Linked DNA regions of Homo sapiens. Changing the gene in region 2 together with the main gene of any one other region gives a genetic interaction. Each region holds a gene or a part of one and is shown on either strand. Other genes may lie near its edges. The genes, in order: DERL2, GBF1, RBM5 and ODR4.

Region 1 (5,981 bases), on a different chromosome or scaffold from region 2:
GTTAAATACAGGTTTAAACTTAAAAAAAAAAAAAGTACTGTCAAAACAAAGCACATAGGTAGGTAACAAATCTGTAGGTAACTCATCCATAATCTCTGGCCTAATGATCCAGCTATTCTATAGCCTCAAAGCTAAGAGGACCAAAGAGTGGAAAAATTAAGTCCTATATATGCATCAAGCCATGCTGCTCACATTTCTCCCATTGGTAGACTGAAATCTGCTGTTTCTCCTGAAGAAGTCTCTTGGGGTTCACCAGCTTTCATATGTAGATACTGACAAGCTAATAACTATTCAGAGAATATCCTGGTTCTTCCTTCAAACGACGAAGTGTCAGACACATTTCATTTTTAACTTGTCTGGGATGGTCTGTGGACTTAACTGGTCTGATCACGACCATAACAGCTGGTGGTCACCTTTGCTTTTCCGACCACCAAATTACTGCCCTTGATCATGTTCAGTTTCCCTCTATCCCACTTTCAGAGACAACCACAAGCTTCAGCAACTAGGCTCAAGCTTGCATGCATACACTTTAATCCCTCTATAATTAAAAATACCAGATAATACTTTGCTGATCAATAAACAAAGGTATTTATTCAGCACCCATGTGCCAAGCACTGTGCTAGGCACTGTGGTGGATACAAAAATTAAGACATGGTCCCTGCCCTTAAGGAGCTTACATTCTCATGAGGGAGACAAGACTAATATACATGTACCAGCTAGGAACAGTACAAGACAATATATAATTTGGCGTTAAGAATGTCATACAGACTTGAAGCTTTATAGGGATTCAGAGACAGACAATAAAATAGGCCTTAGAGTCAAGATTTTTTGAGGAATCAGGAACAAGGCCAGGCCTTGAAGAACTGAAGAGACTTAAGTTGAGGTCCCTGTTAGGTAGAAGTGGGAGTAAAGTTAAGAAAAAAACAAGTATGCATATAATGTAGGGGCTTACTAAGAAGTCACTGTGGATTTCTGAGCAGAGGAGTGACTTGATCATACAAGATTCAACAATTTTATTGCAAACTCATAAAATATGTTTAAGTAGCCTGGAGACATCCTACAGAACACAGAAAATAATGGCAGGATCATGACTAACAACATAGCTGGAACTCACCTGTCAAAGAAAAACAGCTACAACATAAAACACTGGCAGGATAGATGACAATAGTTCTAGGAAGCCCATTACTCAACATGGCAATAGCTCCAATGCTTCCTTATTTTCAGAGGCCCCAGAGACTGAGGGTTTCATTATCCAGACCCAGGACTTAGGTGTTCTGCTTCTAGAGACTACACAAGAGGTATGAAAGATATGAGGACATACAAGAGTGACACAGAAAAAACAAGAGGAAGAGAGAAACAAATAGAAATCCATACTGGAAAAAAACGCACCGAAATGTATATAAAATGTATCTCCTAAGGAGATGCAATTTGTATGTCCATTTATTTTTAAATGAACGTATACCGTATTTCCATAACAAACAAAAAACACTATGCTTTAGTCAAGTGTGCTTTTCAGTATCACTAGAAGAATCCAGGAATCCCTCAAATTATGTGTAAGGTTAGTTGGTTGGTCTCAAAATTCCATGTATCAAATCTCACTTTCAGTTTATTTGCATTGTGAAAGGGAAGTGTGTTCTGGAAGAACTAAGATTGAGAGGTAAATTGGGGAGAAAGTAAGGACTTTTCCTTATGTCCATTCAAGCACAGGTATCCTGTCAAGCAACACAGGGCTAGGAATGGTGGTTGTAGGGCTGGCCAAACTGATGAGAGGTGATTGAAATTACCACTGCTCAGGACACAGTGTAGTCAGTCACACAGCAGGGCATCCTGCCACTGGGAACTTGCACCCTATAAAATCGGAGAAATCAAAAACCCTGTAACTGCCTGCCTTTAGGCTGTATATTCAAAATGTATTTCCTGTTTTACCTAGTCATTAATGTATACAGATATTCCCTACTTAAATGAACAGTGAGTTAACAGATTTTAGGATTAGTATTTTACCACAAAAATGCCATTCATTGCATAACTCCAACTCAGGGAGAACAAATAAAACTAGAGAAACTCATTTCTAGCCCAAAAACAATTTAAAAAAAAAAAACAAAAAACAAAATTCTAACAAACGTCACTGATAAAGCGTTCTTGAGCAAAAACAAGATAGGATAAAACTTAAGAATCCCATAAGGATTATACATGCTAAGATTGGCTTTTAAACTTTGAAAACCTTTTTTAAACTGCTTAAAAAGCAGTCCCATAGACCCAGGTTCCATAAAATTGCAACAATCATATTCAAAGTTATTAGCAACATGTAAAATACTTAAATACCATTAGTTATGCAATTCCATTTAAAGACATTAAAACACTTTTCACTTCAAAAACAATCTGAAAATTCCTATTTAGGATGTCCATTATGTTTAAGCCTATGTCTATCTTTCTGAGGACAATGTCACATTCTGGAAAGCTACCCCTTAACAAAGGTTGAATGAACTACTACTAACAATCCACTTTTGGGAAAGGGACCTGTGCCTACATGCCGTTAATGAAAGCTGTTTGGAATCATCTCTTTCCTAGGGGTGCTCTTTCGACTCTTCCAGGTTCTGGAAGTTACTTAAGCAGTGTGAATGCAAACCTGCTGAGACTCAGGGAAGACTTAATATTTAGGGGAAGTATTTATTGAACCACAGCATTAAGTGTCTACTTCTGTGGACCCTGTCTAATTTCTACCTGATTGGGAAGGTAATCCAGGTACTTGGCTCTGAAAAGGTTCTTGAATTTTCACGAAGCAAATGACTAATGTTAACTAGCCAAAGACCCTGGAAGAACATATGCCTAGCTAACTGGTATCTGTTCGTCTGGCTCCAAAGTCAACATTCTAACTTGGTTTCCAAATCTAATGAAAATCTGAGACCCTGTCTCTATTTTTTTTTTTTAATTAAAAAAACAAAAAACAAAACAAAACAAAAAAGGCAAAAAAAAAAAAAATGGCTGGGCATGGTGGCTCATGCCTGTCATCCTAGCACTTTGGGAGGCTGAGGTGGGAGGATTGCTTGAGTCCAGGAGTTCAAGACCAGCCTGGGCAACACAGTGAGACCCCATCTGTATTTAAAAAAAAATTTTTAATTAAAACTTTTTTAAAAATAAAAGAAAAAAAAAGTCTAATGAAAATCTTCCTAGTTTTACAAAAATGTGGCCCTTACCAATCTTTCCCTGGATACTTCTTAATGGAGAAATGTAAGTAAAGCAAATAAGATGCCACATTAGCTTACAGCTGACTTTCCTATAGCTGAATTCCTACTGCTACAAGAACCATCCTCCCTCCTTTTTTTTCATGTTGTCTGACAAAGTTTGGCAAAACCCAGATGCAAAACAACCTATCCAGATGACAGAAATAAATCATCTTCCTGCTGAATCTTGCATTCTGAGTTAGTAAGATGTACACAACCACAGCATGACAGCCACGTATTTCCAATCCTGAAATGAAATCCAGTTAAAAGTTGTGAAGACACAGGAAGAACAGCTGTGTAAACTGTTCTGAGCTCAGATCTACGCAGGAGGGCTACAATACATTATCAGAATTTAAAAGATCACACACAAAAGCTTTAATACAGTGAGAGAAAAATGGAATTCCGTTTTATTTTGTCCTCTCTGAAACTTCCATTTACACCATGGCCTCATCTATCAAGAAGAGGAAGAAAAGGCTCTGCCTTATACCATAAAAATCAAGTACTCATGTACTTGTTAGAGGTGGCAGGATATTTGTTTCTCCAGTTTTTTGGCTCTAAGAAATTACACTTTCAGTACCAGTGTAGTGAGGAACCACTGGCAAACTGTTGGAAATGTCTTCTGGATTAGTCAGTGTACCATTTCATAAAGTGCTTCTGGAGTTAAAATCTGCCAAGCTGTCAAAAGTGTCCACACTTTTGCAACAAAGGATAAAAGATCCCAGTGGGTATCACCGAGTCCTTCCCAGCTGGGTCTCATTATTGGCACTGCTGCTTTAACCTCCAAGCCGCTGGCCCTCACCCCAGGCGAAGCCTCCTGGCCGTTCCTCAGGTAGTGGATTGTAATTTGGATCCTCATCTGGTGTATCAAAAATAGCTTTCCTAAAAGACAAGCAACAGATATAATTTGGTCCCAGAGTCATCTCAGGTCCAAAGTACTACAAGGTCAGTTCAGGCCCCATAGGGTTTCCACCAATAGGTAAGCATTACACCTGCCTGCCAATTAAACAGTTAACATATTGTAAGAGCATCTATAATTATTAACATTTACATTAGCTTTTATCTTTTACTGATTTTTACTACAAAAGCAATCCAAATCATAATAATTACAGAGAAGGAGGAAATAGAGATGAGCAAAATATCCTCAATTTCCAGAGGTAACTATTGTCAATGTTTTAGTTATTCTTTGGGAATTTTTACATTATGTCATTTTACAAAAGTTAGATCACACTACATGTTTTGTAACCTGACTTTCACATATTTATCATTAATGTTTCCCCATAACCAAGGTATCACCCAAGTGTGCATCAACAGGTGAATAAACAAAATACGGTACACACATATAATAGAATTTTTTTTTTTTTTTTTTGAGACGGGAGTCTCACTCTGTCGCCCAGGCTGGAGTGCCATGGTGCGATCTCGGCTCACTGCAACCTCCGCCTCCCGGATTCAAGCAATTCTCCTGCCTCAGCCTCCCGAGTAGCTGGGATTACAGGCGCCCGCCACCACGCCCGGCTGATTTTTGTATTTTTAGGAGGGAAGGTTTTCATCATGTTGGCCAGACTGGTCTCGAACTCCTGAACTCAGGTGATCTGCCTGCCTCGGCTTCCCAAAATGCTGGGATTACAGGCATGAGCCACTGCACCTAGTCAACATGGTGAAACCCTGTCTCCACCAAAAATACAAAAATTAGCCTGGCGTGGTGGCGCATGCCTGTAATCCCAGCTACTACTCAGGCGGCTGAGGCAGAAGAATCACTTGAACCTGGGAGGCACAGGTTACAGTGAGCTGAGACTGCTCCATTGCACTCCAGCCTGGGCGACAGAGCAAGACTGTCTCAAAAAAAAGGAAGGAAATTCAGGCACATGGTACAACATGGATGAACCTTGAGGACTTTACGCTAAATGAAATAAGAAATAAGCCAGACAAAAAAGGACAAATATTGTATGATTCCACTTAGGTACAGAGTAGTCAAATTCAGAGAAAGAAAATAGAATGGTGATGGCTGGGGTGGGGAGTTGTTTAATGAGTACAGAGTTGTAGTTCTGTAGGATGAAGAGAGTTCTATGGATGGTGGTGATGGCAGCAAAACAGTATGAATATACTTAATGCCACTGAACATTTAAAATGAGTTAAGATGGTGAATTTTATGTTAGGTATTATTTTACCACAAAATTTTTAAAAAATTAACAAGGTATCCCAAGAAAAATTACTGCAGAACATAGGAGGGGATAGTAAATGTCCAAAAGACTCCCTAAGTACTATGATGTAGTAATTCAAAACCTCACTAAAGAAGGAACCATTAAAGCAGCATCCTCAATTTGCACTTATATTTCTACTTGTAATCCTCCACAGTTGATAAAATTAGAAATGTATCTGAAAACTTCTGATTTATACTGGAGTCAGAAAATAGTATAATTCAAAATGAGTTTTTAAAATTCTTACAAATTAACAATAAAAACAAACATACCAACAGAAAAAATGGGCAAAGGGCTGAATATGCAATTCAAAAAGGAAATCCATGTGGTCAATAAACGTGAGAATGTTTGCTCTCACAATAATCAAAGGAAAGTATATTAGAAACTGAGATCCCGGCAGGTGTGGTGGCTCATGCCTGTAATCCCAGCACTTTGGGAGGCCGAGGAGGGTGGATCACCTGAGGTCAGGAGTTCAAGACCAGCCTGACCAACATGGCAAAACCCTATCTCTACTAAAAATACAAAATTAGCCGGGTGTGGTGGCGCATGCCTATGATCCCAGCTA
Region 2 (7,556 bases):
ATAGGTGTGCACTACCACGCCCAGCTAATTTTTATATTTTTTTGGTACAGGCGGGGTTTCACCATGTTGGCCAGGCTGGTTTCAAACTCCTGACCTCAGGTGATCTACCTGCCTCAGCCTCCCAAAGTGCTGGGATTACAGGTATGAGCCACTGCGCCTGGCCGCCAGGTTACTCTCTACTAGAATCCCTGAAAGGAAACCTCTGCAAATTCATTCCAAGTCCCTGACCCAGCCTTCTCTTCCCAAGCCTGAAGACTGCAAGCAGCTAGTTCCTCATAGCTTATGGTCCTGTCATTTCCCATGGGAAGAGCGGCAACAGTTCTCTCTAGTGGCCTTCTTCCCTCGGCTCACAGACCCTGCTCAGCAGCATTCCCACGCCCCCTTGGGCCTCCTCTTAGGCCCCCTGCTTGCTACTCAGTGCCTATCAGGCTAGGCTAGAGAGACTCACCACAGGCCCCCAGCTCAGATGGAATCTCTGGGGGCGGTGGATGGCCAGGTGTCCTAGTGTCGCCAGCAGCGGAAGTCAGGTGGGCTGAGGCGAGAGGCTTTTGGCCTTGAGGCTCCATGGGCATGGGGTCTGGAGACGGTAGAGAATTGAGATGGCACCTCTTAGTGCTTTCTCTCTCCAGCAGAGCCCTAGCTACCCAACAGCCTTTCTACCCACCCAGGGCACAGACAATAAATTCAGCTTTGGGGACTTTTTTTTTTTGAGATGGAATCTCGTTCTGTCACTCAGGCTGTGATCTCGGCTCACTGCAACCTCCACTTCCCGGGTTCAAGTGATTCTCCTGTTTCAGCCTCCTGAGTAGCTGGGACTACAGGCACCCACCGCCACACCTGGCTAATTTTTGTATTTTTCGTAGACATGGGGTTTCACTATGTTGGTCAGGCTGGTCTCAAATTCCTGCCCTCGGGTGATCCACCCACCTCGGCCTCTCAAAGTGCTGGGATTAGAGGTGTGAGCCATTGTGCCCAGGCAGGAGACTCTTTTTGATAAAGCTGGGCTGAGCCCCCTACCCTGGATGACGGTCTGCTTGAAGAGTTCATCTCGTAGGTGAGGGAGAAAACAGTCAATGCGTTCCCAGGTGATCTCCCAGAGGGCCGAGGGGCCGCCTCCCCGTGCATCTGCACTGTGGAAAATCTCCGCTGTGTCCATCACCAGAAGCATGTTCTTCAGAGACTCAGGGATCGCCTCTGACTGCAGGTGGCAGTGGGACCATGAGAATAGGAAAGAGGGCATGGGGGGAGTATGGTAAAGGGAGGTAGCTACCAAGGGGGAAAGGGCAAGTCCTTCCAACAGGTGGGACAGGAGGCAGGCAGCAGAGCTGAGGTAGAACATACCAGTAAGTCGCTGGAGCCTGCGTGCATGTACTTGTCCATGAAGTCCAAGATGGTGAGCCAGAGGGCCGCAAAGGTAGAGAGTGACAGCAGTGGAGACAGGTGCTGCAGGAAGACCTATGGCCCACCAGCCCCCTTCAGCTGAGGGGACTGTAGGAGCCTCTGGACCCCTCTCTGAGGCTGGGTAGCTAAGCCTGTCCTATCTTGCATGAGAATCTTAGATCAGAGATGGAGGAATCTCTGATTTAAGATTCAGAATCCTCTCAGGTCCCTAGGTCCTGCTTAGTGTCCATAGCTGGGGGGTTGTGAGCACCTACAGTGCATCTCTAGGTCCTGCCAGAAGCCCTGGCTTCCCTCCTCGGGAAAAGGCAGGTATGGGAGAGAGGGTGGGTATAGGGTGGTGAGCAGTACCTTAGAGAGCAATGTGGAAGCCCTCATCCGGGTCTCCTCCATCCCACCCACATCTGCAGGGCTGATGTTCTCCAAGAGCTTGGTAAGTAGAGGAAACAGCACCTGGTGGGGGTAAATGTGCAATGTCTCCCTATGAGGTTCAGCTAGGCAGCCTTGCCCCAAGGAAGCCAGGAACTGGATGGGCATAGAGCTGAAGGGAAGGTATGATGCAGGCTGAAGACTCACATTAGGGGCTCTTCAGGCTGCCTGGCTTTCCTTTTCTTAGGATTTGAACTTTATCTTAAGACCAGTAGGAAGTCCCACCTTGTTAAAACAGGACTCCCATTCCAGGGCATCTAGCTTTTGCAGATCATGTACAAGTAGTGCTCGCTGCAGATAGGTCAGTGCCTGCATCCGTACCTGGCGCCGGGCATCGCAGCACAGGCAGGCAATACCTGAGAGCAAGAGCAGGGTCAGGATCCTTCAGGCATCTTGATCCTGATGCTCCCCAAACTCCCTACCTCTGCCCCTCCTGGTTTACCCTGCAGTAAAGGGCACCAGCAGTGGGCCCAGAGGGTGCGAGAATCAGCTTCAATCTTCTGGCCACCTGTCTCCAGGTGGCGTTGCTCCTCCGCCCATGAGCTGTAGATAGAGGCTGCCCGCGTGTGCAGGGTGTGCATCAGGTCTAGCAACTAGGATCACAGGAGGGGGCAGGATGTGAGTGGGGTTAGGTCTCGTGGATCCCTTTCCCCCTCCCCACTCACTGTCCCTAACTAAGTCCTCAAGGTGTCCCTAGCACCAATCATGCCATACCTCACCCCCTCGCTACTCTTTCCCTTGACTTGACTTCCTGGTTGTTCCAGTCCTTGTAAAGGACTCTCCAAGTCAGAGATTACTCATGAGAGAGAGAGCCTTAGGAGGTGTGTGGACTGAGTATTTCACAATCCTTACTCACAGTGAGAAAGATACTTTCTTTTCAATTCTATTTCACACCTGCTGATGACAGAGAAAGCCTCATGTTGTTAATTTAATTTTATTTTTTGAGGCAGGGTCTCACTCTGTCACCCAGGCTGGAGTGCAGTGGCACAATCACGGCTCGCTGCAGCCTCGAACTCCTGGGCTCAGGTGATCCTCCCACCTCAGCCTTATGAGTAGATGGAACTACAGCTGTGCGCTGCCACAGCCAGCTAATTTTTTGTATTTTTGTAGAGATGGGGTTTTGCCATGTTGCCCAGGCTGATCTTGAGCTCCTGGGCCCAAGCAATAGTCCTCCCAAAGTTTTAGGATTACAGGTGTGATTATACCATGCCCGGCCTAATTTTATTTCTTATTTTATTTTTTGAGACAGGGTCTTGCTCTGTGCAAAACTGGAGTGCATGGCACCATCATGGCTCACTGCCTCCTGGATCTCCTAGGCTCAAGAAATCCTCCCACCTACTCAGCTACTCAGCCTCCCCAGTAGCTGGGACTACAATGTGTGCCACCATGCCCAGATAATTTTTGCATTTTTATTTTTGTAGAGGCAGGGTCTCGCTATTTTTCCCAGGCTGGTCTCGAACTCCTGGCCTCAAGTGATCCTCCCGCCTCAGCCTCCCAAAGTGCTGGAATTACAGGTGTGAGCCACTGTACCTGGCTGTTAATCTCATTTTTAAAACAGAAAACCTCAGGCTCAGAGGCTTTGATTGGGCAATAGTGTCTGGCCAGATTTAATACATTTTTACTTTCGTTATTTTTCTTTTCTTTCTTTTTTTTTTTTTTGAGATGGAGTCTTGCTCTGTCGCCCAGGCTGGAGTGCAGTGGCATAATCTCGGCTCACTGCAAGCTCTGCCTCCCGGGTTCACGCCATTCTCCTGTCTCAGCCTCCCGAGTAGCTGGGACTACAGGCGCCTGCCACCATGCACAGCTATTTTTTCTATTTTTAGTAGAGACGGGGTTTCACCGTGTTAGCCAGGGTGGTCTCCATCTCCTGACCTCATGATCCACCCGCCTCGGCCTCCCAAAGTGCTGGGATTACAGGCAGGAGCCACCAAGCCCAGCCACTTTTGTCATTTTTGTATGGTTATTCTATTTAAGGCAATTGGTTCTCCATCAATTTAGTGATATAAACTCTGCTCACATAATTAATTTTATATGCCTTTGAATAGACACAGGGTAACTCTGGAAGGATAGACAAGAAACTGGTGACAGTGGCTGCCTCTAGTGAGGGGAACTCAGAAGCTGGGGACAGGAATGGATTGGAAACTTAGTTTTATCAGTTTACCCTTTTGTATATTTTGAACCTACTCAAAAAATAAGTAAATCTTAGTTTAAAAATAAATTTAAAGGCCAGGTGTGGTGGCTCATGCCTGTAATCCTAGCACTTTGAGAGGCCGAGGCAGGCGGATCACGAGGTCAGGAGATCAAGGCCATCCTGGCCAACATGGTGAAACCCCGTTTCTACTAAAAATACAAAAAATTAGCCAGGCATGGTGGCACGCGCCTGTAGTCCTAGCTACTTGGAAGGCTGAGGCAGGAGAATCGCTTGAACCCGGGAGGTGGAGGTTGCAGTGAGCCGAGATCACGCCACTGCACTCCAGCCTGGGTGACAGAGAGACTACATCTCAAAAAATAAATAAATAAATAAATAAATAAAAATAAAAATAAATAAATAAATAAATTTAAGCAAATAAAGACTTACAGGTAAGGTTTTGGGTAAGGGAATATTGTGAAGATGGTGGTCCAGGGCCTGGGCTGGCACACATGGGCCCTTCCCCTCAGCCCTGGCTTTCCCTGGCCGCCCCAGGCTCCCAGTATCAGGTGCAGGGGAGGAGAGGAAGTAAAGGGTGCCATACTTACGTCCTGACTGACCTGTAAAGACACCGTATGGTAGCTGGCAGGCACGCCTTCGTCCTCATCATCATCACTCTGCCCGCCCCGAGAGGCATGTTGGCTGGAGGTTCGAGGCCGGCGAAGCATTGATCCCTCTTTGGATTTCTTCTTGAAGCGGTTCCCTTTGCTGTCATATTTGTGACTCTTGCCACGTTTCTCCTGGGACTTGCATCCTGAGCAGAGCCAGACTCAGGTCACATTTCTGTGTCTATATAGGCATAGATACCCTGCCTTTTCTCCCCTCTCAGCCTCTCCCCTGCATAATTGCATGGCTACTCCCCAGCTGCCCCCTCATCAGCTGACCCACCGCCATTCAGACTGGCCTCCACAAAGATCCGGAGAGTCTTGACGCAGAGCTCAAAGTTGTCAGGTGTGATGTGGGCAGCATCACGCACAATGAAGGACAGCGATTCCACACACTTAAGCAGAGACTTAGTGTCGTGTGGCCCCAAATCCAGTCCCACTGTTAGGCTGTATTGATTGATCAGGGGTGAAGGGCCTGGGCGGCTGGGCCCTGGCTTGGAGTTATCAACGTCATCCTTCCCAACCTGTAAAGTACACAGAGGAGCTGGGGACACAGGCTTGGCCCCTGTGTGAATGTCCTTGCAGAGGACCAGGAATTCTTCCCACAGGTCAAGCAGGAGAGACTCAATTGCTGCCCATATTGTCACTCACCACTAACCAACCACTGTTGACCACATCGGCATCTGTGGCTGATCGGTGTATCTTGCCCGGCCTGCCATGGTCAGTGTAGACCTCTGAGTCGGAAGTGTACCCTCGATCCAGGCTCACGTCATTCTGATGGTAGGATGGGAGCTCACTATCTGACTGGGCCCCTATGGTAGGCAGGGAGAAGGGCAGAGTCAGGGTGGGGATGGGGCACTGGGATGAGGGATAAATCAGGCTCTCAGAAAAAAGATGCTGAGGCCTGGCCTCCCCTCTCTCTGGCATAGTTTAATTTCTGTCACCAGAGGGCCAAAGGATGGCCGGAACAGTTTCTCTGTTGACCAAATAAGGTGGCAGGCTAATCTGGGTTCCTGATGGCATCTAGTGGCAGCTGTAGCACCACTCTAGGGAGTGGTGGCAAGGACAAATAAGCAATGCAGAAGGCTATGAAGCCAGGCTTTCCACTGTCCTGAGGACTGTTTTCCCAGTTTCTGGGATTTAGTGATGTATCGATTTAGTGATATAAAGTCTGCTCACAGAATTCTATTTTCCCAGAATTCTGGGAAAACAGTCCTCGGGACAGCTCAGAAACAGAAACTGGGAAACAGTCCTCAGGACAAATCAGTCCTCAGGACAGTAGGAAGCCTGGCTTCACAGCCGTCTGCATTGCTTATTTGCCCTCATGCTATTTAACTTATGGGTACTAGCCAGCGGGCACTGGAAGCTCTGGAAGTGATGGCAGGAGCCAGGGCTGTTTAATCTGCTGAACACAGTAACCTGTGTTTTGTTTTCCTGTCCCAACTCCTGGGGTGTAACTGTTTATCTGCCAGCCTGAGTCTCCCTGGGAAAGGGCTTACCGGCATCAGGTGCATCTGCCCTGGCTGTGGCCTGCAGAGCAGCTGGAGGCTTCACACCTGAGCCGATGCACTCCAGCAGTGTGAAGAGTGTGGCCCAGTCATCACCTGAGTGGATGTTGGCTGCATTGGTCTTCAGGAGTTCATGGAGCCCATACGCAACCTGGTGGCTGACTCGGGATAGCACACTGGGCTTCATCAGTAGCAAAATGCGCAGGGAGAGCAGCACCTGGAGTGGGGTTAGGGCAGGGAGCGGGGAAGCGGGGAGCTGTGTGGGCACACAGCTTCCTGTCTAGTTTTCTTTCCCACCAGTCTCCTTAGGCCAGTGAAGACAGTTTGGCTAGGACCCAATTTAGGATACTGCTCTGGTCTTTTTTTTTTTTTTCAAATAGAAATATATTAATTATATTATTTGAGACAGGGTCTTGGTCTGTCTCCCAGGCTGGAGCACAGTAGCACAATCACAGCTCACTGCAACCTGAAACTCCTGGGCTCAAGTGATCCTCCTGCCTCAGTCTCTGGAGTAGCTGGGACTACAGGTGCATGTGACCACACCTGGCTAATTTTTTTTTTCTTTTTTGGAAAGATGGGGTCTCGCTATGTTGCCCAGGCTGGTCTTGAACTCCCAGGCTCAAGCGATCTTCCCGTCTCAGCCTCCTGAAGTGCTGGGATTATAGGCATGAGCCACTGCACCCAGCCTCAAATACAAATTTTTATTGAGAAAATTATAGGCTCATATGCAGTTGTAAAGAAATAATACAAAAAGGTCCCTTATACACTTTGCCCAGTTTATCCCAATGGTAACATTATGCAAAACTATAGTATAATATCATAATCAAGATACTATCTGATCTTATTCAGATTTCCTGTTTTACTTGCATTTTTGTGTGTATTAATTTCTATACAATTTTATTACCTGTGTAGGTTTGGGTATCCACCACAAAACAACATACTGAACAGTTCCACCACAACAGTATCCCTCATGTTGCCTTTTTCTTTTTTTAGAGACAGGTTTTGCTCTGTCACCCAGGCTGGAGTGCAGTGGTATGATCATAGCTCACAGCAGCCTCAAACTCCTGGGCGCAAGTGATCCTCCTGTCTCAGCCTCCAGAGTAGCTGGAACTACAGGCATGCACCACCATGCCCAGCTCATGTTGCCCTTTTATAACCACACCCACCTCCTCCTTCCTGCCCCCATCCCTAATCCTTAGCAATCTGTCTTCAAATTCTTTTTTTTTTTGAGATGGAGTCTTACTCTGTTGCCCAGGCTAGAGTGCAGGCAGGATCTCAGCTCACTGCAACCTCTGCTTCCCATGTTCAAGTGATTCTCCTGCCTCAGCCTCCCAAGTAGATGGGATTACAGGTGCGAGCCACCACGCCTGGCTAATTTTTGTATTTTTAGTAGAGATGGGGTTTCACCATGTTGGCCAGGCTGGTCTC
Region 3 (8,391 bases), on a different chromosome or scaffold from region 2:
TATGGGAAGGGGCCACTGGACCTGGCTGCCTGGCTGTTATTTCTATTACTATAAGGCTCAGAGTGTTTTGGGGGGTTATACAGCCGCTGGTCACTCACCTCTGGACTGTCATAGTCTCGGTAGTCATCATATCTATCACCCCTCCGATCATCACTAGATCTTTTGTAATCTGAGTCCCTCCGCCTGCTTCGGGATTCACGCTCATCACGGTCATCCCTGTCTATGATGGAACCGTATCTTCCACTACGCTCTGTTCTACTCACTCTGCCAGGGAAAATAATTTTCATTCTAAAGTCAGTCACATTTTGTACCTTTAAAAGACATAGTTAAAAATACACACGGCCCACAGATCAGTTTATAAGATAATCCAAATAGTTTAAAGTGTTAAAAAGTATTACCAAATTCCAGTTTACTAAGATAACCACTGGGAAAATACCTACATCCCTAAATGTAATGATAATTCTCAGGAATGTATGCTAAATCTGAAATAAACATTTGGGTTGAATATTTCTAAGAAAGAGTCATGTTGTCCAAGTTTATTTTTGCATTTTGTCAAGCCTAGAGTCTACATATTATCCCTTCATCCCTGATTCAGATCTTAGTGACCAAAAACAGGAAGAAAGCAGTTACTCGAATTTCACCCAATTTTAAAGGGTGAAATTAAGTACATCCCTGGCTCATCTACTCTCAAGGGTATCATGCCTACTGGAAAATGGACCAAAAACCTGGATGAACTAAGTTAGTCTTTTTTTTCCCCATCAGGCAACTTAGTTGTCTGTCAGATACAACTGGATAGTTACCCAAAACTAGCACCCCTTAAGAGAACACTCTTCTTATAACATCTGGTTTATTTTTGGCTAAAGGGCAGCACTGGGCTTCATGGGAAAACCTAATAACAAGAGGCTTAAACCTATTTGACCACAGATAAAATACACCTTTTGTAAACTGTTTACCAGATTCATAAAACTGCTGTGCAATCATAAGGCAAAGGAAAGGTTTATAAGGGCTTCATTTAGAATATACAAATTTAATAAAAAGAATCAAAGGAAATATGGGACTGAGACACCCCAAAGGGGTAAATGTTAATTTAGTAAGCTATTTAGAACCACAGACTGCTGACACAGCATTAAAATACCATGTGACATGAACATCTCCTAAGGTCCCTCAGCCTGTCAATGTGATCTACCACAGGGACTGACCTCAATACTAAAAAGGCAGATGGCTGAATAAGGGTGTGTGTTTAAATCAAATGGTCTGAGAGCATGTACCCATAGGTGACACAATAGCCAAATGCTCTCATCTTAATTTTCCACTAATTCTTTGGCTCTTTCTTTCTTCATGTAACACACAGTCCCAAGCTTCTCAGCTCTCTAAGTCTGGATCATCTTGCTATTCAGGGAACAATAACAAGAAATGGCATTCATTGATTGCTTACCACAGCCAGGAACTGTGCTAAGTGCCAGACTGTATGATCTCCTGGATTCTGCAAAGGTTGCTGTCCACACAGGGAACCTTCAGTGACCCACTCTACCCTGCCCTTCTTTGCCTAAAATTCTTTCTTATCCTTCAGCTTCCTTCCAGAGAATATTTTCTCCAGGAAGCTTTCCTGGCTGTGAACAAGAAAAAGACATACTTCCTATGTGTTCTAAGAGCACCCTACACTTTATCACAGCATGTTCACACAGTACTTTAATTCTCTCACTAGACTGTAGTTTGTGACAACAGGATCATAAAGGTGTTCGTTAGCAATGCCTGGCGCAAAACACTCATATATTAGTTTGATAAACTATTTTAAACAAGGAGTTCAGTCCCCACTGAAATGTTGAGATCAAAGCCACGTACTGTAGTAACTTACCTTTTGTCTGAACCCATTGTCCCACTGAAGATTTAGCACACAGCTCCAAAAGGTTCAAATTTTATTTTTTCTAGGAGACAAGAGAGATTAATTGCTATAAATCTCAGAGATCACTTAAGTCAGCAGCTCCATAGCTTGGATACTACTGAGGCTGGGATTTCATCAAACCTTCAAATCATTGACAGTGATTATCTAAGGTGGGGAAGTGGTGGGGACAAACTGTCAACGTTAAAATCGTGCTAACATTTTGTTAACAATGAGCAAAACCGGAAGATTAAGCATATTTTAAAATATTAGATTCCAGATTTAACAGAATCATAATACGGAGCAAGCAGAAGACTCCTTCCCTGCTCCTACCTTAGAATTACAAAGCAAAAAGGGCAGAGCTACAATCAGCTCCTTGGTTTTGTATCAAAGCAACTCCGTGGGATAGTTGACCGTTAAAACATTAATCCAAGTGTCTTCATTAATACAAGGAGCAACATGAAATTCAAACACTTCTGATGAAAAATGTAAAACCTCGTAGAAGCTGGGATACTGAGCTGACTGAAATCTACTACATTAATAACGTATCGCATAAGACAAGAGCAAAGCTAGAAACGACCTAATTCCTAGGTAACAATAACCACCACGTCTTGAGCCAGTTCTTATGACTACAAACCACTGAGTAGTGAACAGCCCGGCCCCCCGCCCCCCGTTGGTAATAAGACATCACACTGCTGGACCGCGTTCGATGAGCGCGAGGTCCGAAAAATCAGTTCCAGTAGTCTCTGGAAGCCTAGTCTAGAGCGAATGCTCAACGATTTGTTGAAATTAATAAATGAAAAAGAACCACTGGGGGGAAACAAGTCCCGGGGCATATTCACTGGTGCCGCCCCTTGTCTCCCGGGCGGTGCCGGCACCCACCTCCGTGGGGTCTCGCGGCCGAGATGGCGGCGTCACGGCCTGCTCGACCGACTCCAGCGTCCGGCCTGCCCTCCCCGCACATGCCCCTCCCGCCTCCCAAGAGGTTCCAAACCCGCAGATGGGCGATCACCGAACAGCTTTTCGGAGAGGGCGATTCAGTTGCAGTTGAGCGGGGGATGGCGGCCAGAGACTGCCAGGGAGCTCCCAAGGAGTGCCCGAGGGACAGGCGACGGCTCCACTGCTCCGTTGGGCTGAAGATTAGGGGACGTGTATCCACAAGGGGCAAAGTCACAGCCAGAAAGAAGCAGGCCCAAGGCTGAGCTGGCTGGACACCCTCTGGAAACTGACAGAGCTGGCAACAAGGAAGGGCGCGGCCCTCCAACGCCTGGGGTAATTTAGCCCCTCTACAGAACCGGCTGGAGCTGATCAGTCGCCTCCGGCAGCTGACAAGGGAGGCTTGGGGGCCAGCCCAAATGGCAAGAACCTACCGTCGTTACAGACAGCCGCCGCACTTACCCCAAGGAGAGACCGAAGCAGCAGTAGCGGTTCTGCGCCCCAGAACCTCCAACAAGGTTCGGCGGCTACACAAAATGGCGCCTCCGCCGACGGCCGTCTCCTACCCACAGTACCTCACGCTTATCCCCTCCCCCTGTCACCCGCCTCCTGCGGAGAAGTCCAATCCTCGAAGCGGCCTGGCTGTGCGAGGGCTGCCGGGAAATGTGGTCGCCAGACCATCCTGTCACTTAGGACGCTCTGTGTTAATGTCTTGCAATTCTCTTCTAAATCACTACAGAGTTGTCGATCGGCTTTTGCAGACCTGGATTAGTTTTTAGGGCTCCTATTAGGCATGTTAATAATTCTTTGCTTTTGCTACTAGCGCCGTAGAGAGTACAGTTTGCTTTCACTGGCACGGTGTAAAACATTGTCTAATTCTACTTCAAAAGGAGACCGTGCGTGAAGTGGTGGCTCACTCACAAGCCAGCATTTTGGGAGGCCGAGGCAGGAGGATCGCTTGAGGCCAGGAGTTCGAGACCAGCCTGGGAAACACAGTGAGATCCTATCTCTACAAAAAATAAAATTAACTGAGCATGGTGGCGTGCACCTCTTGTCCCAGCTACTCAGGAGCTGAGGTGAGAGGTTCGCTTGGGCCCAAGAGGTCGAGGCTGCAGTGAGCTGTGATCTCGTCACAGCACTCCAGCCTGGGGACAATGCGAGAAACTGTCGCTAAAAAATAAAAAGGAGGCCGGTGCTGGGCGCGGTGGCTCACTCCTGTAATCCCAGCACTTTGGGAGGCCAAGGCGGGCGGATCACAAGGTCAGGAGATCGAGACCATCCTGGCTAACACGGTGAAATCCCGTCTCTACTAAAAATACAAAAAAATTAGCTGGGCATGGTGGCGGGCGCCTGTAGTCCCAGCTACTTGGGCGGCTGAGGCAGGAGAATGGTGTGAACCCGGGAGGCGGAGCTTGCAGTGAGCCGAGATTGCGCCACTGCACTCCAGCCTGGGCAACAGAGTGAGACTCTGTTTCAAAAAAAAAAAAAAAAAAGGCTGGACGCAGTGGCTCACGCCTGTAATCCCAGCACTTTGGGAGGCCGAGGCAAGTGGATCACGAGGTCAGGAGCTCAAGACCAGCCTGACCAATATGGTGAAACCGCGTCTCTACTAAAAATACAAAAATTAGCCGGGCATGGTGGCATGCACCTGTAGTTCCAGCTACTAGGGAGGCTGAGGCAGGAGAATCACTTGAACCAGGGAGGCAGAGGTTGCAGTGAGCTGAGATCGTGCCACTGCACTCCAGCCTGGGTGACAGAGCAAGACTCAGTCTCAAAATAATAATAATAATAATAATAATAATAATAATAATAATAATAATAAATAAATAAATAAAAAGGAGGGGCCAGGCATGATGGCTCATGCCTGTAATCCAAGCACTGTGGGAGGCCGAGGCAGGTGGATCAGCTGAGCTCAGGAGTTCGAGACCAGCCTGGCCAACATGGCTAAACCCCGTCTCTACTAAAAATACAAAAATTAGCTGGGTGTGGTGGCGCACACCTATAATCCCAGCTACTTGGGAGGCTGAGGTAGGAGAATCGCTTGAACCCAAGAGGCGGAGGTTGCAGTGAGCCGAGATTGCTCTACCGCACTCCAGCTTGTGCAACACAGCAAGACTCTATCTCAAAAAAAAATAAAAATAAAAAATAAATTAAAATGAGGAACATTAGTTGATCGCTTTACTAGATGCTATATTATTGCCCTAGATGCTTTGCAAACATTTTTGTTTGTTTGTTTGTTTGAGATGGAGTTTTGCTCCTGTTGCCCAGGCTGGAGTGCAATGGCACAGTTTCAACTCACTGCAAACTCTGCCTCCCAGGTTCAAGTGATTCTCCTGCCTCAGCCTCCCAAACAGCTGGGATTACAGGCACCCGCCACCACACCCAGCTAATTTTTGTATTTTTAGTAGAGATGGGGTTTCACCATGTTGACCAGGCTGGTTTCGAACTCCTGACCTCAGGTGATCCACCTGCCTCAGCCTCCCAAAGTGCTAGGATTACAGGCATGAGCCACCGCACCCAGCCAGAACTGATTTTTCAGGTCATACAAATTGAAAACTGTGCCTATACCATTAGTTACAGAAAGTTATACATCAGTTACAGAAAACTGTGCCTATACCATTTTCTTCTCTCTCTGGAAAACAAATCTTTCAAGAATAAGTGGAGGGATGTCAGTGTATATATCTATATATAGGTATATACACAATACATATATAGACGAAAAGGTAGAAATATAATATATGTGGTGTGTGTGTATTTAGAGAGGAAATATATACAATTTATGGGGAAGCATATATGCAAAATATCAGAAAAGAGTACATGCATTAATGAAATTTAAAAGTTAACATTGATGACATCACTGCAAACCCTACAATGGATGATGCAGATGCCAAGAATCTAGAACTCACTAGACTTCATAGCCACTAGCCGTTGCCTGCCTTGTCCCCAAAGCAGTTCAACAAGCACCTTTGGATATTCCTGAGGTGCTTGCTGAGCTGGGCTTACCACCAGTCATAAAAGCTATATAGCTATTCACAAACCTCAAAATAATCTTTTTTTTTTTTGAGACGGGGTCTTACTCTGTCACCCAGGTTGGAGTGCAATGTCATGATCTCGGTTCATTGCAACCTCGACCTATCCAGGTCAAGAGATCCTCCCACCTCAGCCTCCTGAGTAGCTGAGACCACAGGTGTGCACCACCATGCCCAACTAATTTTTTGTATTTTTGGGGTAGAGATGGAGTTTCACCATGTTGCCCTGGCTGGTCTCGAACTCCTGAGTTCAAGCGATCCTCCTGCCTCAACCTCCCAAAGTGCTGGGATTACAAGCGTGAGCCACCATGCCCAGCCTGCAAAATAATTCTTAAACTTGAAGAGGTCCCTGGCAAAAAAAGATGGATTTCATCCATAGGTAAGTGCCATCCTCCAAATTATCTCTGGTAGCTGATCTTCTTTTAGACATTGGCCTGTTGAGCTCCAGAGCTCTGCTGCCAAAGGCCTGTCTGGTAGCTGATGTAAGAAAAAGAAAGACATCAGAGTGAGTTGCTCTTTGTTTTAAATAAAGCCACATATGTTCAATAAGGGATAGTCCTTTAAGATTGTCTTTTCTAGCCCTCTCCCTCTCCCTCTCCCCACGGTCTCCCTCTCTCTCTCTTTCCACGGTCTCCCTCTGATGCCGAGCCGAAGCTGGACAGTACTGCTGCCATCTCGGCTCACTGCAACCTCCCTGCCTGATTCTCCTGCCTCAGCTTGCCGAGTGCCTGCGATTGCAGGTGCGCACCGCCACGCCTGACTGGTTTTCGTATTTTTTTGGTGGAGACGGGGATTCGCTGTGTTGGCCGGGCTGGTCTCCAGCTCCTAACCGTGAGTGATCCGCCAGCCTCGGCCTCCCGAGGTGCCGGGATTGCAGACGGAGTCTCGTTCACTCAGTGCTCAATGGTGCCCAGGCTGGAGTGCAGTGGCATGATCTCGGCTCGCTACAACCTCCACCTCCCAGCAGCCTGCCTTGGCCTCCCAAAGTGCCGAGATTGCAGCCTCTGCCCGGCCGCCACCCCGTCTGGGAAGTGAGGAGCGTCTCCGCCTGGCCGCCCATCGTCTGGGATGTGAGGAGCCCCTCTGCCTGGCTGCCCAGTCTGGAAAGTGAGGAGCGTCTCTGCCCGGCCGCCATCCCATCTAGGAAGTGAGGAGCGCCTCTTCCCGGCCGCCATCACATCTGGGAAGTGAGGAGCGTCTCTGCCCGGCCGCCCATCGTCTGAGATGTGGGGAGCACCTCTGCCCTGCCGCCCGTCCGGGATGTGAGGAGCGTCTCTGCCCGGCCGCCCCGTCTGAGAAGTGAGGAGACCCTCTGCCTGGCAACCGCCCCGTCTGAGAAGTGAGGAGCCCCTCCGCCAGGCAGCCGCCCCGTCTGAGAAGTGAGGAGCCCCTCCGCCCAGCAGCCACCCCGTCTGGGAAGTGAGGAGCGTCTCCTCCCGGCAGCCACCTCGTCCGGGAGGGAGGTGGGGGGTTCAGCCCCCCGCCCGGCCAGCCGCCCCGTCCGGGAGGGAGGTGGGGGGGTCAGCCCCCCGCCCGGCCAGCCGCCCCGTCCGGCAGATGAGGGGCGCCTCTGCCCGGCCGCCCCTACTGGGAAGTGAGGAGCCTCTCTGCCCGGCCAGCCGCTCCCTCCGGGAGGGAGGTGGGGGGGTCAGCCCCCCGCCCGGCCAGCCGCCCCGTCCGGGAGGGAGGTGGGGGGGTCAGCCCCCCGCCCGGCCAGCCGCCCCGTCCGGGAGGGAGGTGGGGGGGTCAGCCCCCCGCCCGGCCAGCCGCCCCGTCCGGGAGGTGAGGGGCGCCTCTGCCCGGCCGCCCCTACTGGGAAGTGAGGAGCCCCTCTGCCCGGCCAGCCGCCCCGTCCGGGAGGGAGGTGGGGGGGGTCAGCCCCCCGCCCGGCCAGCCGCCCGGTCCGGGAGGTGAGGGGCGCCTCTGCCCGGCCGCCCCTACTGGGAAGTGAGGAGCTCCTCTGCCCGGCCAGCCGCCCCTGTCCGGGAGGGAGGTGGAGGGGTCAGCCCCCCGCCCGGCCAGCCGCCCCGTCCGGGAGGGAGGGAGGTGGGGGAGTCAGCCCCCCGCCTGGCCAGCCGCCCCTTCCGGGAAGTGAGGGGCGCCTCTGCCCGGCCGCCCCTACTGGGAAGTGAGGAGCCCCTCTGCCCGGCCAGCCGCCCCGTCCGGGAGGGAGGTGGGGGGGGTCAGCCCCCCGTCCGGCCAGCCGCCCCGTCCGGGAGGTGAGGGGCGCCTCTGCCCGGCCGCGCCTACTGGGAAGTGAGGAGCCCCTCTGCCCGGCCACCACCCTGTCTGGGAGGTGTACCCAACAGCTCATTGAGACCGGGCCATGATGACAATGGCGGTTTTGTAGAATAGAAAGGGGGGAAAGGTGGGGAAAAGATTGAGAAATCGGATGGTTGCCGTGTCTGTGTAGAAAGAGGTAGACATGGGAGACTTTTCATTTTGTTCTGTACTAAGAAAAATTCTTCTGCCTTGGGATCCTGTTGATCGGTGACCTTACCCCCAACCCTGTGCTCTCTGAAACATGTGCTGTATCCACTCAGGGTT
Region 4 (7,759 bases), on a different chromosome or scaffold from region 2:
TGTCTCCAAATCAAATGTATAATAATCCTAGCCAACATTTATGGGGAAAGTCACATGCAATTAGTAATTCCTTTATTTTTCAGTGCCATCTTCTAAGTCAACATATATCATAAGAAACAGTGAACTGTACTTAGCAGTAAGAAAATGGAGTTAAAAAGACAGGATCAAGAGAGAAAAAGCATTTAAACTATATAACATGTATATACAGCAAATCACAATAATGAATATTTGCAATTCCTATCATTTATCACTCTAAATAGAGCCTTTAAAGAAAAAACATTATGCTTGATAACGCACTTATCAATCTCTCAATTGCCACTCAAAATGGGCTCTTTTCCCTTACATGCAGTTTCTCTTCTAAACATAGGCTAACTAGAAAAAATATAATTTTTAAAATTTTTCCAAAAATATACATTTTGAAACTGTATTTCACTAAAATACATATGTTGGCAATTTAATAAGCAAATACATTTTAATTAATTCTAATCTTAACTTCTATTTAAAGAGGACCATTAAAGCAAAAAAATCCCCATTAAATGTGTCTAAATTTTCTATTTTGTTTTAATATTATTTACTGCTTTCCAGACTTACTGATCCAGAGTATATAAATACACACACACGCGCGCACACATTAACTGTATACCACAGGAAGGTATCTGATGTATCTGTAGGTTCATCCCTTTTTCTCTTCTCCCAGATCTCGTAAAAGCTGTATTCAGTCATTTTTCTCAAATTCCTCGGCACTACTACTAAACAGATCTTTTTATTATGGCTAGGCAAAACTACATAGATAATGAACCAGATCTAGCTATATATGCTCCATCACACATGTATGCATATACATTACGTTTTTAAAATGAGGTGTACCAAAAGTAGCTGAAAAAAGTTATAACCTAAATAGTTGATGGTCATGGACCCATTAAGAAGGAAAGCTGCAATTTTAATCATTTGATTATGAACTTCCTGTGTTCCTTCTCCATCAATCAAATTAAAATTGAACTATATTAAGTATCAATTAATTATACCAGCCAGACACAGTGGCAATCCCAGCACTTTGGGACGCCGAGGCGGGAGAATCGCTCGAGGCCAGGAGTTCAAGACCAGCCTGGCCAACATGGCGAACCACTGTATCTACTAAAAATACAAAAATTAGCTGGGCCTGGTGGTACATGCCTGTAATTCCAGCTACTCAGGAGGCTGAGGCGCAAGAATCGCTTGAACCCAAGAGGCAGAGGTTGCAGAGAGCCAAGATTGCACCACTGCATTCCAGCCTGGGCAACACAGTGAGACTCTGTCTCCAAAAAAAAAGGAAAAAAAAAATTAATTACACCTTTATAGAGATCTTTCCTAATGTTCTGATGTTTGCTTTCTTAAAGCAGAAGCAGTCTACAGCCAGACCACCCTGAAGGCACCCCATCTCGTCTGATCTCGGAAGCTAAGCAGGGTGGGGCCTGGTCAGAACTTGGATGGGAAAAGCAAAGCACAAGACATATCATCCTCCTAAGAAATGTCAGGATCTTTAACATCTTGTGAACTTTCTAAAACTTAATGATGTAAGAAAAGTAAGAAAGAGATTAGCTATCAATCTTTTATAGGAATTAGGCCTTAAAGGGGAAATATCCTGAGATTCATAGATATTTATAAAAATTATTAAAAAATGGAGTTAAAACATAAATATAATGAAATCAATAGGCTTCGATTCTTCAACATAAAAACAAGCCACTCTCTACTTCTTTAGTTGCATAATGCTTTCACCTTTTTAAAAAGATTTCAAGAACTCTTATCTCATTTGATTTACAAAGCTGTCTAGGTAGACAGACATGTGGGTCTAACCATTTTATAAACAATAATCAGATACTGTTAAGATTTACATGTGGCAAAAGCAATTTTAATAGCAAAATCAGAATAAGAATCCAGACCTCCTGACCATTAAATTCTGTGTTCTCACAAAATCTTTACCACTAAGTGAAAAATCAAAATATCACCATAATAAAAACCAATGATGCTTAATCAATATTTTCATGTTTAGTAAGCAAATGTTTCCAAAGTATATAAAGGAGTCTCTGAAGATTTCGATACTCCGAGAATACTTACAAAGATGAATTAAATACTTACTGAGTTTCTCTAGCTCAAGCCGCAAGCTTTGACACTCTCGGGTTTCATTCACAAGTCTCTCCTGACTGTGGGACAACCTCTTTTCTATTTCAAAATACTGTTGTTCTACAGCAGACAAGCAAAAAACAAAAAACAAAATCAAACACATGTACATACATTGTGAATACTGTTATTTATTTCTAATAACCTTGATTTTAAAACTTAAGATACAGTATTAGAATTGTGCTCCACATAAGAGAATCTGAGTAAAGATAAATAGACTGAGCACTGAAAAGGACTTAAAGCATTTCCAAACGACTTACATGACAAAAAATAAAAAATAAAAATAAGGCCTAAAAGGGGCTTTACAAATCAATGTCTTCAAGGCAGGTAACCTCATTTATCTTAGTATTTTCTCCAGACATCAGTAAACTGCTTAATAAATAAAGTATTTATTACACGAGAAAAAATTGTTTAGACAAAAAAAAACTCCTTTGTTTTAAAAGACTTCTTTTATAGTAGTCAAGATATTACCTGAAAGCATAAAACTACTAAATATATGTAAAAGTAAATGTGTAAACTTTCCAAGGGAAGGGATTGAATATCATGTTCAGCATAGTATCAGGAACATGTAAGACATTCAATATTTATGGTGCAAATTAATAAATAGAATGCAATGTACTATACTCAGCTCTGGGATCAGAGAACTAATTTTCAAGGTCAATTCTGCTTGACAGTTACACTTTTTTTGAAGTAAAAACTTGTTCAGAATTTCCAGTCAACTTAGCAAGAACAGTATGAACCTCCCCAAACAAATGGTAAACCAAAACACATTAACGGGAAGTTTGTATTTTACTAATGGTAATGACTATATTCTTCATATTTTTTTCAAGGATGTTCAAGCCATTATTGTCAGTAACTTTCTTACTTAAAGGCCTACTTTAGGTAATTACAAGAAAATTTTAATGTTTTCTATCAAACTCCAACTTTTTAAGAGAAATCAAGATATATTAAATTTATGTACTGCACATTCACTGTGTTTCCAGCGCTCTTATGCACCTAATATTCATTTTTGTAAACATCTGATTCGTTCTGGAGCCACGGGACGACGCACACACTAAGAACAAGTGCACAGAGTGGTCAATTTGGCAAAGGCCTAGAATGCAGGTGCCTAGAAAATAGGGCGGAGCCACTATCAGTTGAAGTGCAACAAAACATATAAGGTACTCTAGGCTTAGAGAGATGGGTTCGCAGACTCTATCAAGTCTGTTTCCCGTCTGCCGGACGAAGGAAAATAAGCGTCCCTGTATGAGCCTACCCTAACTACAAAGAAAATGCTACTGAACTTAGATTCAGATTTTTTTTTCAAAGGCTTCTTATCAAACTGTAAGGAGCAGGAAAGCGAAGGCTCAGGATATCCACAGAGCCCAGGAAGTGAGGTTAACAGAGCGGTACCCAGTGCCAACTTGATGGGGGAAGACCAGACCCAAAGGGCGGGAGTCGAGCCCAAAACCAAGGACGGAAAGAGCATCTCACTTACCGCTCTCCACCTTAAATTTCTCATGCCGCCCCTTCAGGCCATCGATCTCGGATTGCTGATCAGCAAGGAACTTTTCAAGTTTGTTCTGGACAGACTTGGGCAGCTTGTTCAGCTCCGTGCGCTCCAGGACTTGCTGCAACACCGCCGCCATGTCGGTGGGGCCAGGGACCCCAGTGGCAGCGGCCGACGGGGTAGAAGCGGAGAAGAAAGGCGAAGACCAGCAGGACCCAGACGCCTGGGCCGCCGCCTCTATCACCTCGCTCGGTGGCTCGCGCGCGCCCGCCCGCCGGAGACTCCCGCGGCGGGACCCTGGGAAATCGAGTCCACCCTCAGCGGCAGCGTTTCAGCAACAGCACCTCACCGCCCGCGACCGAAGTGCGCGCGCAGCCGTTGGAAGCTACGAACCCTGGGAACCCGAGCTCAGAGGCTATCCCTGATCCTCTTGCGCACCCAATTTTCCGGCTTCCAGCTCCACCCACTTCAGGCCTTGTAGGGCTCTGGGAAATGTAGTGTTTTTCTCATTCTTTTCCGGGAGCCCAATGCTGCACCGCCCTCTCAGCTTCCGTTTTTCTCCCCGCTCCCCTGGCTCTCCTATCTCGGCCCCGTAACCGCTGTCCGCACGGTGGCGCCACATACGTACTCGTCACCCCTTGGCCCTCCCTGAAGAGCTGGTGACCTTACCGTCAAAGCCCCGGGATGCCATGGATCGTCCTCGTTGGCGGCTTCTGGACACTGAGCCACTAGAGGGCATCGGTCCCGGTAGGGCCGGACGGCAGGCTCCGGGATACCGCCACGCTCTCTATGGCGCCCAGAAGGGGGCGGGGTGGCGACCGCAGTCGCTTTGGCTGAGGCTCTGCGGGGAAGGGAGGGGGGGCTTTTACGTCATCAATCTGCGCCACCTGACTCCCAAGTCCCTGGCTTTGGAGTGGGAAGTGAGGTGTGGGAAGTAGGTCGCTTTCTGATGAATTCAGTGGCAGTGAATTGAGACCGGAGGGAATCTGGCCCCTAGAGGCTGGTACTTGGGCCCGAAACCCCCATCTCCGGCGGAGAGACCGTCCGAGGTAATTGTCTGCCACGAGTGCACATTCTGAAAACAGGTAAGTCAGCCTAAGTGTAGTGTGTGTGTGTGTGTGTGTGTGTGTGTGCTCTCTTTTCAAGAGAAAAAGGAAGGGACAGTGTTGGAACCATATGGACAGTCACTCCGGCACACACTTCTGACGAACTTACCTTGTGTGAAACGGCGTACCTAAATGGTTTTTGGTGGTGGGGAGGTGGCACTGAGTGATTCAGTACCCGGGAATTTAAGGACCCGGGTTAATTCTTCAGGAGGAGAATTAAAAGAAACCGGTAGCACTTTGAGTGTAGCCTATGTTTTAAATTTTTCGTTGCAGAAACGGTTACCTAACATTATATTGTTTTTAAAATTGAAAACTGTTGTAACTGAAGTTTTTAAACACATTGTTAATTTCTACAGTAACAGAACTTGTATGGTTCCAGATCATAATTCTGTAGTTTTAAAGCTCAATCCGTAGATTGTTTCGTGTTTACTCTTATGAAAGAATTTGTTAAATTATTCATTGTAAATAATGCATTCCCAGTGTCGTCTCTCTGCAGTTCCCACAGTCGTGGGCCTTCTGTGAATTGGTGATTTAGTTCTTATATGAAATTTATTCTTTTTCTCTAGTTCTTACTTTTGAATCATGTTGTGAAGCCGTCTAAGAAATATAAATGGAAGCATTTTATGATATTTTGTAATAACTAAGGAAAAATAAATCAACAGCGGAGCTTAAGGTTGATTTTTCCCCAAAAATATTTTTTAGATAAGCATTGTAATTAAAGTTGCTGGTATATGAAGTATTATGCTATGTCCTAAGCCCACAGTATTATCATACTGTTGATCTGTCATTTGGGAAATGTAGATTTTTCTGTACTTAGATTCACAGAATCCTAAAATTAGATAGGTTTTCAGATCTGCTAGGATTCAAATGCTTTATTTTATAGATTAGGAAACCAGAGCCCAGAAAGGTTGAGTTGTGTCAGTCACAGTGCTTGGACCACAAAGGCTTTGGCTGATATACAACATTTCTGGAAAATTATGACCCTATAAGGCAAAATACAGTTGTCCCTTGGTATCCGTGGGGCATTGGTTCCAGGACCCTCTCACCTGCCCACCCCATGGATATGAAATCCATGGATGCTCCAGTTCCTTATATTAAATGGTGTAGCATTTGCATATCTTAAATCATCTCTAAGTTACTTATAATACCTAATACAATGTAAATGCTATAGTTGTTATATTATATTGTTTAGGGAATAGTGACAAGAAAAAACATCTTTAATGATACAGATGTAATCATGCTTTAAAAAAATAATTTTTCAATCTGTGGTTGGTTGAATACATGGAAGTGGAAACCACAGATGTGGAAAGCTGACTATATACATTTTTAGTACTGCCTTTTATAAAGTATGGTTGACTACATTTAAAAATTTTGAAAGAGCACTAAAGAAAAATTTATCTGACATTCAATCAGATTTCATAATTGAATAGATTTTCATCTCCCTATTACATTCAGTTTCTTACACATTAATATGGCTACTAGGTGACACCCTAGAAGAAATAAGGTTAAAAGGTTAAATATAACTTTAGAATTACTTGTATTTGTTGCAAGAATTAAGAATTATTAGACCAGAAGGAAAAGGAGTATAATATGATATAGAGGAAAGTAGATACATAGAATTGCATACCTTAAGGCATTACTAAAAGGTAAAAGCCCTTAACTTCACAGAGGCAACAGTGATATTTAGACAAGCATTCCTAGACTTAGTCTCTAAAAAATGATATGCAAATCTGATTCACGTCTATTGTTGTCAAAAAAGAGCTAGGAAGGCCAGGCATGGTGACTCACACCTGTAATCCCAGCACTTTGGGAGGCCAAGGCAGGCAGATCACACGGTCAGGAGATCGAGACTATCCTGGCTAACACGGTGAAACCCCGTCTCTACTAAAAATACAAAAAATTAGCCGAGTGTGGTGGCGGGTGCCTGTAGTCCCAGCTACTTGGGAGGCTGAGGCAGGAGAATGGCGTGAACCTGGGAGGTGGAGCTTGCATTGAGCCGAGATCGCGCCACTGCACTCCAGCCTGGGCAACAGAGCAAGACTCCATCTCAAAAAACAAAAAAAAAAAAGAGCCAGGAAGAAATTAATGTATTTTGAGACAAAACTGAACAAGCTCATTGAAACAATAAGGAAACAGCCTCCAGTAGGACATTTCAGACTTGAATCCATTCTCTGGGCTTTAGTTTTAAAATGCAAAACCGTTTTGTGACTGACAGTTTACTGGTATCAGATATACCACCCCAGCATATCTCTGGTAGCCTTAACTTTGTGGTACTGAATAAGATTCACATTTTTAACAGAATCCAAATGATGATGATTCCTAAATTGCAGTGTTCAAAATACTGTAACTGTGTTCCTGCAGTCTCTGTTTGTTTTATAGCTCTTTTGGATATCATCTCTTTTACATTTTCATCCTCACTGATTATGAACTCCTTGATTTAATCATTCATTATATTGCCTAGCTCTTTTATTCAATATCTTTGGTTTTAAGCTATAGAAATGCAAATCAAAGGAGCATAAGCCAATAGAGGGAATGAATATACTGACTTCCATCCACAGACCAGAGGGAAAACAGAGTAAGAGCTACCCGTAGTAATGATTTAATTGAAGGACTGGTTACGATTCCTCATTATGAGCGTGGTGTTGAAAAACATGGATTCTAGAGCCAGAGTGTCTGAATTTAAGTCCCTCCTTTGCCACTTACCCAGCTTTGTCACTTTGGCAAGTTATTTAATCAACTTTTCTCATTTCAGTTTCTTCATCTATAAAATGAGGATTATAATAATGGTACCCACTTCCTGGGGTTTTATGAATTATTAATGTTACATGGAAAGTACTTACAATAATGCGTTGTACAAAGTAGAAGCTATATGTTGTTATTGTATTGCTATTTATCTACTTAAATAACTCTTACTGTAGTATGTATTGCTCAAGGACAGAGATTGTGTTGCTCATCTTTGTGTTATCCCACTTAGCATAGTTTCTAAGCAAATAGTATAGTTCTTTCA

The links.
Region 1: changes in GBF1 (region 2) and DERL2 together harm fitness more than expected from each alone (negative genetic interaction), as found in Homo sapiens cells (one study listed by BioGRID).
Region 3: changes in GBF1 (region 2) and RBM5 together harm fitness more than expected from each alone (negative genetic interaction), as found in Homo sapiens cells (one study listed by BioGRID).
Region 4: changes in GBF1 (region 2) and ODR4 together harm fitness more than expected from each alone (negative genetic interaction), as found in Homo sapiens cells (one study listed by BioGRID).

Annotation. Positions count from the first base shown.
Region 1 is NC_000017.11:5,470,690-5,476,670, forward strand, and holds the end of DERL2 (derlin-2), read right to left. Parts: intron 4,101-5,981; coding exon 3,995-4,100; 3' UTR 565-3,994; downstream 1-564.
Region 2 is NC_000010.11:102,374,148-102,381,703, reverse strand, and holds part of GBF1 (Golgi-specific brefeldin A-resistance guanine nucleotide exchange factor 1), read right to left. Parts: intron 6,346-7,556; coding exon 6,120-6,345; intron 5,433-6,119; coding exon 5,272-5,432; intron 5,145-5,271; coding exon 4,904-5,144; intron 4,770-4,903; coding exon 4,564-4,769; intron 2,421-4,563; coding exon 2,270-2,420; intron 2,184-2,269; coding exon 2,053-2,183; coding exon of another isoform or gene 2,011-2,052; exon of another isoform or gene 1,975-2,010; intron 1,852-1,974; coding exon 1,750-1,851; intron 1,456-1,749; coding exon 1,342-1,455; intron 1,199-1,341; coding exon 1,018-1,198; intron 578-1,017; coding exon 449-577; intron 1-448. UniProt on the Homo sapiens protein: Guanine-nucleotide exchange factor (GEF) for members of the Arf family of small GTPases involved in trafficking in the early secretory pathway; its GEF activity initiates the coating of nascent vesicles via the localized generation of activated ARFs through replacement of GDP with GTP.
Region 3 is NC_000003.12:50,083,916-50,092,306, reverse strand, and holds the start of RBM5 (RNA-binding protein 5), read right to left. Parts: upstream 3,389-8,391; 5' UTR 3,278-3,388; intron 1,926-3,277; 5' UTR 1,873-1,925; coding exon 1,856-1,872; intron 265-1,855; coding exon 99-264; intron 1-98. UniProt on the Homo sapiens protein: Component of the spliceosome A complex. Binds to ssRNA containing the consensus sequence 5'-AGGUAA-3'. Regulates alternative splicing of a number of mRNAs.
Region 4 is NC_000001.11:186,371,244-186,379,002, forward strand, and holds the start of ODR4 (protein odr-4 homolog), read left to right. Parts: upstream 1-4,594; 5' UTR 4,595-4,731; intron 4,732-7,759. Other genes in the region: nucleoprotein TPR, read right to left, coding at 2,116-2,220, 3,635-3,785. UniProt on the Homo sapiens protein: May play a role in the trafficking of a subset of G-protein coupled receptors.